2 separate regions of the Homo sapiens genome follow, and region 1 is linked to region 2. A link means that fine-mapping ties the variant in region 2 to the expression of a gene that starts in the linked region. Tissue or cell type: prefrontal cortex. Region 2 holds a variant in brackets; the other region holds the start of a gene. All regions are shown on one strand. Distances are from middle to middle.

Region 1 (4,398 bases), 59 kb before region 2:
CTGCAGGGTGTTGCACACAAACATGGTCTGCTCATCATCGTACACCGTCTCCCCCACAATGGCCACAATGAGGATCCGGAAGATCACCACCACAGTCAACAGGATCCTGAACGGAGGAAGAGGGAGGGAGAGAGGTTCTCACGGGCTGCGTCACTGACAGGAAACCCCTGCTCCTCCCTTCCCTTTGCTGGTGTTTACCAGTCTTTTGACTGGGGAGCTGTCCATCCCGGGCTGGTACTGAACTAGGAATCTGGGAAAGCTTTTTGTCTCTTCCTTTTCTGCTGAGTGCTGGTAGGCTGGGAATATTTCATATTATAGAGATCCCAGGTACACACATCTCCATACACTGGACATAGTCTACTTGCAACAGATAGATTTCATCTCTCTATATAGAATGTATAGAAACACAAAACACACCTTCACTCTGGATATGGCAAATGCACACAGAATACCTTTACAGATGGTGCATGCTTCGAGGTCTACACACAGGGTGTGTAAATAACTACTCCATGTGTATATTTAGTTTATTCTCAACATGAATATTAAATTTAATGCTTTATATAAGCAGATGGCTATGAATATATATTCATATATATTGAACTCATATATATATAAAGCTAGGTAGATAGAGACATAGATATAGATACAGACCCAAAAATGGCAATTGGGTGTGTAGGCTCGGTAAGTTTACACCGCCAAATAAGTTTGGTTTAGTAATTATTTGTTGAGAAAAGAGGCATCTGCTCTGAAGAGCAAATCCATCTCCCCATTTGCCCTTTTCTGTCCAAATGCAATCCTGCCTTCTTTGTAGATTCTATTTAGGGAACCAAATGGAGATTGGCTCTGACTCTGGAGAGTGGAGGGACCAAGACTGAGCCAGCGGCTCCTTTTCTGATGTGGGAAGAGTGAAGCCCCAGTGGTGCTTGATGGGGAAGGGATGGGCAGCTGGTTAGGAGTAGCTAGAGGAGGGGGGCATCGCGGGGCGTCGGGTAATCCCTCATCGCCGGGAACACCGGAGCCTTGACCTAGGACGATGGGGAGGAGGCAGAGGACGGACTGGGGATTGGAGCGGGAGACTCAGTCCAGGTGTGAGAAGGGACTCCCGGGGGCCGCCCGACGGGGCCCCCTGACCGCCGGCTTGGCGCCCTTACCTCCCGATCATAGTGGAGTGCTGCTGCACCGCGGCTTCTAGCAGCCTCTCCAAGATGGTCCATTCCCCCATCGCTGTGCATCCGGAGGCAGCAGACAAAGACTGGGCAGCACCGGGCACGTTCCCGCTCCTGGCCCCTCCCCGGGCCGCACTTCCAGAATGGGAGTGAATTGCCTCCCAATTAAAGAAGCAATTTTTTAAAAAATCCTCGAATCCCCCTTTCCTTTTATTGTACTTAAAAGAGAAGAAATGGGGAAAGAAATCCAAGCGCGTCCCGACCGATGGGGCAGTTGGCGCGGTCTAGAGAGAGGGCACGAACCTCGGGCGCCGTCCGGGGTTCGGGTCTGGATCCCGCGGACGCCGGGACGAGGGGCGGGGCGGGGTGGCAGCCTGCAGGTCCTCCAGCGCTCGCCCGCCCAGGAGAAGTCTCAGCGCCGCTCTCCGCCGCAGGTTGGGGGCCAGGGGAGGGTCCGAACACCGGCTCTGTTCCTGCTACTTCAGCGGGCACCTGGCGCTCCGGCGCGGCAGCCTGCGAGGCCAGGGCCGAGCGCGCGGAGCCGAATGCTGGGCTCGGGGATCCGCGGCCGCCGCCTCTAATCCGCCCTTAAGTAGTCTCCGCCTGCGTCACGCCAGGTCGGCGGAGGGGAGCAGAGCGCGCCGTGCGGCTGTCGCTGCGCGTCGGAGCCCGAGGGGCCGGGGACGCGCGCGGGGGGAGAGGGGCAAGAGTCCTGGAGGCCCGGCGGGGAGCGGGGCGATTTCGAAAGGAAGGACTGCAGCGCCCCTCGGGGCTTCTCGGGGAGCCCAGGTAACCTCACCTGACCGCCAGACCCAAGCAGGCGGAGGGGGAGCCGGGAGCGGACGCGTGGGTGAGTGGGGAGGGGAGTGAGTAGGTATCTTCTCTTCTCTCGGTGCATCCCTCACCTTTTCGCTTTTTGCCTCCTGGAGACAACTGAAATTCCTTCCCTAGATGGAGATGCTGGCTGAGGGAGGGCGAGTGGGGGCGACCACTTTTAAATCTCCCTTAGGGGACAGAGTGGCTGAGAGTGCTTCTGCAGAGTGGCTGCGGTTCGGTGCCTCTGTGGATCCGACAGTGAAGTGAGAAAGGCTTGATGGGAATCCATTTAGGCTGAAGGGTAAATGCAGGTGTGGAGCTGTCTCTCGGTATAGGGGTCAGGGCACACGAGCGCATCTAACAGGTGCCTCGCAAAGAGCAAGTGGGGTGGCCATGGTTAAAGGTCTCGCTTCCCCTTGCACTAACCCAGATGCTCGGCTCTTTTTAAATTATTGCTATTATTTTACTAATGGGAAGGGGGGGCGGGGTACTCGTCAGGTAAACTGTGATTTAATCTGAATTTAAGACCCAGTATTCTGCTAGCAGAAACAGAGCCACTCACAGCCTCGCCCTGCCCCCACTTGCCTTACTGGGTTTGGCTTTCTCCCCTCAACCAGCAGATCCCGGTTTTTAAAATTCACATTGTGTTGTCAGTTCTGTCTAGAGCAACTACTTAATTGGTTGCTGAAAAATTGAAACAACCTCACTAAGCTGCTAATTAGCCCAGGGGTCAGTATTAGGAGACACTGTAGCTGGCAGTGTTTGATGTAAATGTACCAAAAGTCCAATGGGAAAGTAATTGTCATCCTTTCGAAAACACGACCTTGAAAGGGTTGCTAACTTGTCCTAGGCATATAAAGGGACCTAGCCTTAATTATCCACAGGGATCATAGCACATATGTATATTACATAAGCCACACCATGGTGAGCCTTCACTTCTGGAACAACCGAGGTGGTTGGGTAGTTGGTGGCCCAGGGACTGGGAAGAAAGGTGCAGGGCATGGCCCTCAGTCCACTCACAGTGTACTTCTTCATAAAATGATGTTTAAACACACGGTCTAAGCTTCGCCGCCAGAAAGATCACTGAAATCCTCTGCTAGGGTTGACATCTTTACCCCAAGAAAGCAGCCTTTCACTGCAAAGGAGTAAAAGAGTCCACTAACAATGGAGAGAGGGATAAAGTGATTTATTAGTTTCCTTCTGAACACGGAGGAGGTTCAAGGGTGAGGACGAATGGATACCCTATTATCCAGTTAGCTTCCAGATGGAATGGTGATCCCCTAACCCAAACTTGGTGTGTTTTCCCAGGTTTCCCTTCTACTCCCCTTGGCCCTAGGTCCCTGTATTCCCTCCTTGTCTGGCAGACTCTCTTATAGTAAATGATCTTAGCCAAGAAGTGAATGAGTAAGTCCAAAGGGAAATCTGTTTAACATCTTTAAATGTCCCAAAATAGGCTGCACAACTCAAAATTGTCATTTTATGTGTTGGCTTTCCCAAACCGTTAAAGATTATGATCCTAAGAACATAGACTGCAGGAAATGCAATTATCAGACACTACGCTATGACTGAATTGTTGATCATTTGTGTATTATTTTGAAATATACTTTAATATGCCATATAGATTCCACATATAAACATGTGCAAACAACATAGGTGTATAAGTGCACAAAGACGCATATATATAGAACCTATATTTTAAAACTCATCAGTTGGACTGTGTAGGCTACTTTTAAATAAAAATCTTAGTCTCACCACCACACTTCAGAAATAACCATTTTTATTTTTAATAACCACTCATAAATTTCACACTTACTACATTGTACTTCCTCCTTCAAGTCCAGTCAACTCCATTTTCAATTAATAATTTGTTCCGATAAACAAATGTGCATTAAATGTGAAATGGTTCTCTGTGGATCCGGGCATCTCTCAGTTTCCTCAGGGCATTGTATCTTCTTGATAGATTCTGATTATCTCAACTCTCCTCTGATTGAAAACCCCCGTTTAAGGCAGCTGGGAAGTTCTTTCCATTACATCTTATTTAAAAGCCATTCTGTTTATTAAAATAATAGTTTTGGATGAGAAACAATGAAATTCGTAGAATGCTCATAGAATAACCTTTGCTGCACAACAGACTGTCTGGGGATCTTCATTAAAAAGACAGATGCTGCGATCCCATCCCAATTCTGCTAAATTGAAATCTATGGAAACAAGATTGAGGTAGCTGTGTTATTAACGGGTTCTCATCCACAGCTCCAATAACAATAAAAACCTGAGAACTTTTAGTTCCATGACTATTAGGGCAGGAGTGAATCCTAGGGATGAGGAAATCTATCATCCATTTGTTTCATAGTGTTAAAACTGACCCAAAGCTTAGCTAGCTTGCCTAAAATCATATGGGTAGCAAAGGAAAAGCTAT
Region 2 (4,398 bases):
TGAGATTACCTACAAAGAAATCATTTGGAAACTCCCTACCTCAAATCTTTGGAACCACAATCTCTTGGGGGCAGAGCTACAGAATCTGAGATTTTAAATAAGTTCCCAAGGAGAGCTGGTTTCCCAGCTGTAGTCTGAGTCACATGCCTATAAATTAAACATATTTAGTAATCATTCTTTTCGTATTTCTCAGACTGATCTAGTGTTTTTCTCAATGTTATTTTTTATGAATTTAGAATACACTATTTTGAGTAGCTCAAGTAGAATTGTCTACAGTTTGAGAAAATAAAACCTATCCTTTAAGCTTTCGTAAGTAGGCAAATAAAATAATAATCTGGCTTAAAATCAAAATCATTATGATATGTGGTGGTGAGGGAAGAGAGAGACCCTCTCATATTGTTTTATATTGTTTTATACTCAGAAAAGGAAAGAAAAGCAAAACTAAAGGCAGGTAGCCTGGTGCCTAGGAACCAGACCCGAAACCAGGCCTGGGCCTGCCTGACCTAAGCCTGGTAGTTAAAATTAGACCCCTGATCTAGCAACTGATGTTATCTATAGATTCCAGACATTGTATGGAAGGACACTGTGAAACCTCCTGTTCTGTTCTGTTTCACTCGGACCACTGGTGCTTGCAGCCCCTGTCACATACCCCCTGGCTTGCTCAATCGATCACGACTGTCTCATGCGGACCCCCTTAGAGTTGTGAGCCCTTAAAAGGGACAGAAGTTCAGCATCTGACGAGCTCGGATTTTAAGACACTAGCCTGCCGATGCTCCCAGCTGATTAAAGCCACTCCCTTCCCTATCTCGGTGTCTGAGGGGTTTTGTCTGTGGCTTGTACTGCTACAGTGGCTCAAGAACCCAACTGGACAAATAAAATAAGCAAACAATTTCATTTTAGAGATAAAATTAAATTATAGCTGTATCTCTGACCTTCCTGTTGTACTTCCTCAGTTTAAACAGCTGAGTAATTAAGACTTTTTAAATGTAGAATTTACTGACACAGTAAAGTCAGTTATATATTTATTTATTTATTTATTTATTTATTTTCAGACTCAACAGAGATAGGACACTGTGAAGTTTTACAGGAAACCATTCCTATTTGAGGAATTCCTCTGATTCAATGTTGTCAATGAGCACTTAAACGTCAATGACAAAAGTTTCCACTCTGGCTATGATGGACTGGCATGTTACCACCCAGTACAACTGGAAAAGTTGCATAAACTTTTTTTAAACAAGTTCTTTGAAAACACAGGCACATTATCAAAGGAGGGAGAACTTTAGGGGCTAACGTGGCTGAGAGAGGGGAAGCAAAGAGTTGAGCCCAGTATCTGTTGCTGCTTTTTCCCTTGTGGTATTTGCCAATTTGTAGGGGAGAGAGAGAGAGAGAGAGATACAGAGAGAGAGAGAGAGAGACCCAAGTAGAGCAGAAGCTGAGAAAAAACTGGCAGCAAAGGCTCAGGAATTGAGCAGCAGTGTAAGCAGTCTCATGGGGCTGGGGTGGGAGAGAAAGAATTGGAGTATAGGGCCTGCTGAAGAAGAGTGTCCGTGGTAAAAGACCAGTCCTTCAGCTGTGATCCACAAAGGGCTACATCTTAGGAGTAAAGACAGACTGACAGCAAACAGACTTTGAGTCAGCTCAATCCCAGGCTAGT[T/C]GGAAGTGATTGGCAGTACCCTGTCTGTCAAAATCAAAAGTAAATATCCCCTGGAGGAGGATAACCTTGTACAGAGCCTCAAATCATTGCTATAGTTTTTCATACATAATATCTGGCAAGTAACAAAGAAAGTACTTGGCCAGATCAAATCACTGAAAAATCACAAGGAAAAAAAAAAAAGACAATGGAAAGTGACCAGCAGGAGATCCGGATACACAGCTTATGGGTTTTTTAATGATTACTATGTTCAAGATAATAAATGGCAAATAGGTAATTTCATCAAAGAATTATAATCCATTAAGGAGACTCACATGAAATTCTTAAACTGAAAATATTATGCAAATGAATAACTTAGTAGATGAATTTAAAAGCATGTTGACACAGTTGAAAAGAGGATTAGTGAGCTTTAAGGTACTAGACTATATCCAGACTAAAGCTTAGAGAGCAAAAGAAATACAGTAAAGAGCTAAAAGGCAAATGGAATATGGTGAAAAGTTTAGTACACATGCATTTGGAGCTCAAAAAGGAAAGGGAGAAGAGAATATGACAAAAGCAATATTTGAATAGATAATGATCAAGAATTCTACTAAAGTGGCTGGGCGCCATGGCTCATGCCTATAATCGTAGCACTTTGGGTGGCTGAGATGGGTGGATTACTGAGGTCAGGAGTTTGAGACCAGCCTAGCCAACACGGTGAAACCCCCTCGCTACAAAAATACAAAAATTAGCCAGGTGTGGTGGCATACACCTGTAGTCCCAGCTACCCAGGAGGCTGAGGCAGGAGAATCACTTGAACTTGGGAGGCAGAGATTGCAGTGAGCTGAGATCATGCCACTGCACTCCAGCCTGGGCAACACAGCAAGACTCCATCTCAAAAAAAAAGTATTCTTCTAAAATGAAGGAAGACATTAATTCACAAGTCCAAATTTCTACAAACCTTAAACTGAGTAAACACAAAGAAAATTGGACTAGGCACATCGTATGAAAGTGCTGAAAATGAGAGAAAAAAAGAAAATCTTGTAAGCAGCCAAAGAAAAAGATACATTTTTATCAAATAAGTGGTAATAGCAATGAGAATGGCTTCTCAACAAGGTGGAAGCCAACGGCAACATAGTAACATCTTCTAGCGCAAAAGTCAGGCACAGTGATAAGAGGAGCTAAAGTGTTCAAAGGTGCTGGCATTCTCTGGGAAGTAGTAAAAGGACCAATTGATATTAGACTATAATAAAGCAAGAATACAAACTGTGTTATCTAAGATAACATCAAAAGCTTAGCAAAGTAATGTGTATCTAACAACTAACATGAGGAAAAGTGAAGTAGTAAAACTACTTAATCACAAAGAAATGAAAAATTAATTTAAAACAGGTTGGATAGATAAACACAAGGTAGTAGATATAAACCTAATATAATAATAACTACATAAATATGAATGAACTAATATTCTAATTAAAAGAGAGAGATTGTTAGACTGGAGTTAAAAGTTCAATTATATAATGCACACCTAAAATATAAAGGTACAAAAAAGTTGAAACAGTGAGAGATAGAGGCATATTCTGCAAATGTGAACCAAAGAAAGCTGGTGTGATTATAATAATATCAGACAAAGTAAACTTAAAGACAGGAAGCATTACTGGAAAGTAAGAAGAACATTTTGTAATGATAAAAGTGCCAATCTAACAGGAAGATATAAAAGTAGTAAATTTGGATGCATCTAATAAAATGCCTCAAAAGTGTAGAGAAAATCTGACAGAAATTAAAGAAGCAATCTAAAAATCTACAAGCAAAACCAGAAGATTAAAAAAAAAACAGACTATAGAGGAGTTGAATCACAAGACAGGGTCAAATATTCACAAGATTCCACCTAAATGACACACAGAATACTCTGTATCCAACAAAATACACATGCATTTCAAATATCCAGCGAATACTAGCAAAGCATAATGATATAGTGGACTATAAAGCAAGTATCAACAAATGTCAAAAAACAGAAATTATATGGAGTATTTTTTTCTAACAATAACAAAGAGATAGTTAGAACACTCCCAGATGTTTGCAATATAATCCATGGCATATGGGTGACATTACAGTGGAAATAAGAAAATGTTTCAAACCAAATTGAGAAAATATAACATCTCAAAACTTACAGGATGTCACTAAGCCTTAAACACATATATTAGAAAAAAAAAGTAAAGATTGCAAATGAATAAACAGAAAATCTTTCTCAGTAAATTAGGGGAAAAAAAAATTAAGAGCTAAGAAAACCAAAGAAAAGAAACTATAAAAATAAGGGCAGAAATTAGTAAAATAGAAAATAAATAAATAAATAAAAGCAACAAAGCCTAAAGGTTGTTCTTTCAACAAAAGCTAATAATGATCTCTGTTGGAGTAGAGGTTATTGAAAAAAAAAAGCTAATAAAGTTTATAAACTTATAGTAAAACTGATTGATTTAAAAAGAGAGAGAAAGCATATATTACCAATATCAGATATGAAAAAGGGACATCATTTCCTTCAGATATTTAACAAATAAGATATTATAAACAATTTTATATCAAGATCTGTAAAGATGCTGATGAAAGGGAAAAATTCTACAAAAACCCAATTTACCAAAACCAACACAACAATAAATAGAAGCTGAATAATTTCATATCTATTATATAAACTGAATGTATAATACAAATATTTCCCACAAAAAGAAGTCTCTAGATCCATTAGCTTCCTTAGTAAATCTAACAAAACATTTAAG

Which allele goes with the higher level. Alleles are on the strand shown, and positions count from the first base shown. SD is a standard deviation of normalised expression in the study named.
In carriers of allele T in region 2, the expression in prefrontal cortex of the gene that starts at base 1,818 in region 1 tends to be lower than with C alone (small effect, 0.36 SD a copy in BrainSeq).

What was found. PIP is the estimated chance that this variant, and not a neighbour inherited with it, causes the effect. A credible set is the group of variants that fine-mapping cannot tell apart.
Region 1: GJD2-DT starts here. The variant in region 2 is the best candidate, but not a certain one, in a credible set for the expression of GJD2-DT in prefrontal cortex (BrainSeq, PIP 0.64).

What each region holds. Positions count from the first base shown.
Region 1 is chr15:34,753,267-34,757,664 of GRCh38, forward strand. It overlaps GJD2-DT (GJD2 divergent transcript), which reads left to right and starts at 1,818. Exons shown (of 3, transcript NR_120329.1): 1 at 1,818-1,955. It overlaps GJD2 (gap junction protein delta 2), which reads right to left and starts at 1,732. Exons shown (of 2, transcript NM_020660.3): 1 at 1,152-1,732; 2 at 1-106. The coding sequence starts at 1,222.
Region 2 is chr15:34,812,505-34,816,902 of GRCh38, forward strand. GJD2-DT (GJD2 divergent transcript) reads left to right here. Exons shown (of 3, transcript NR_120329.1): 3 at 1-419. Among named protein-coding and RNA genes, the nearest start is that of ACTC1, 19 kb to the left of the region's middle. The variant T/C (reference allele first, on the strand shown) is at 1,655.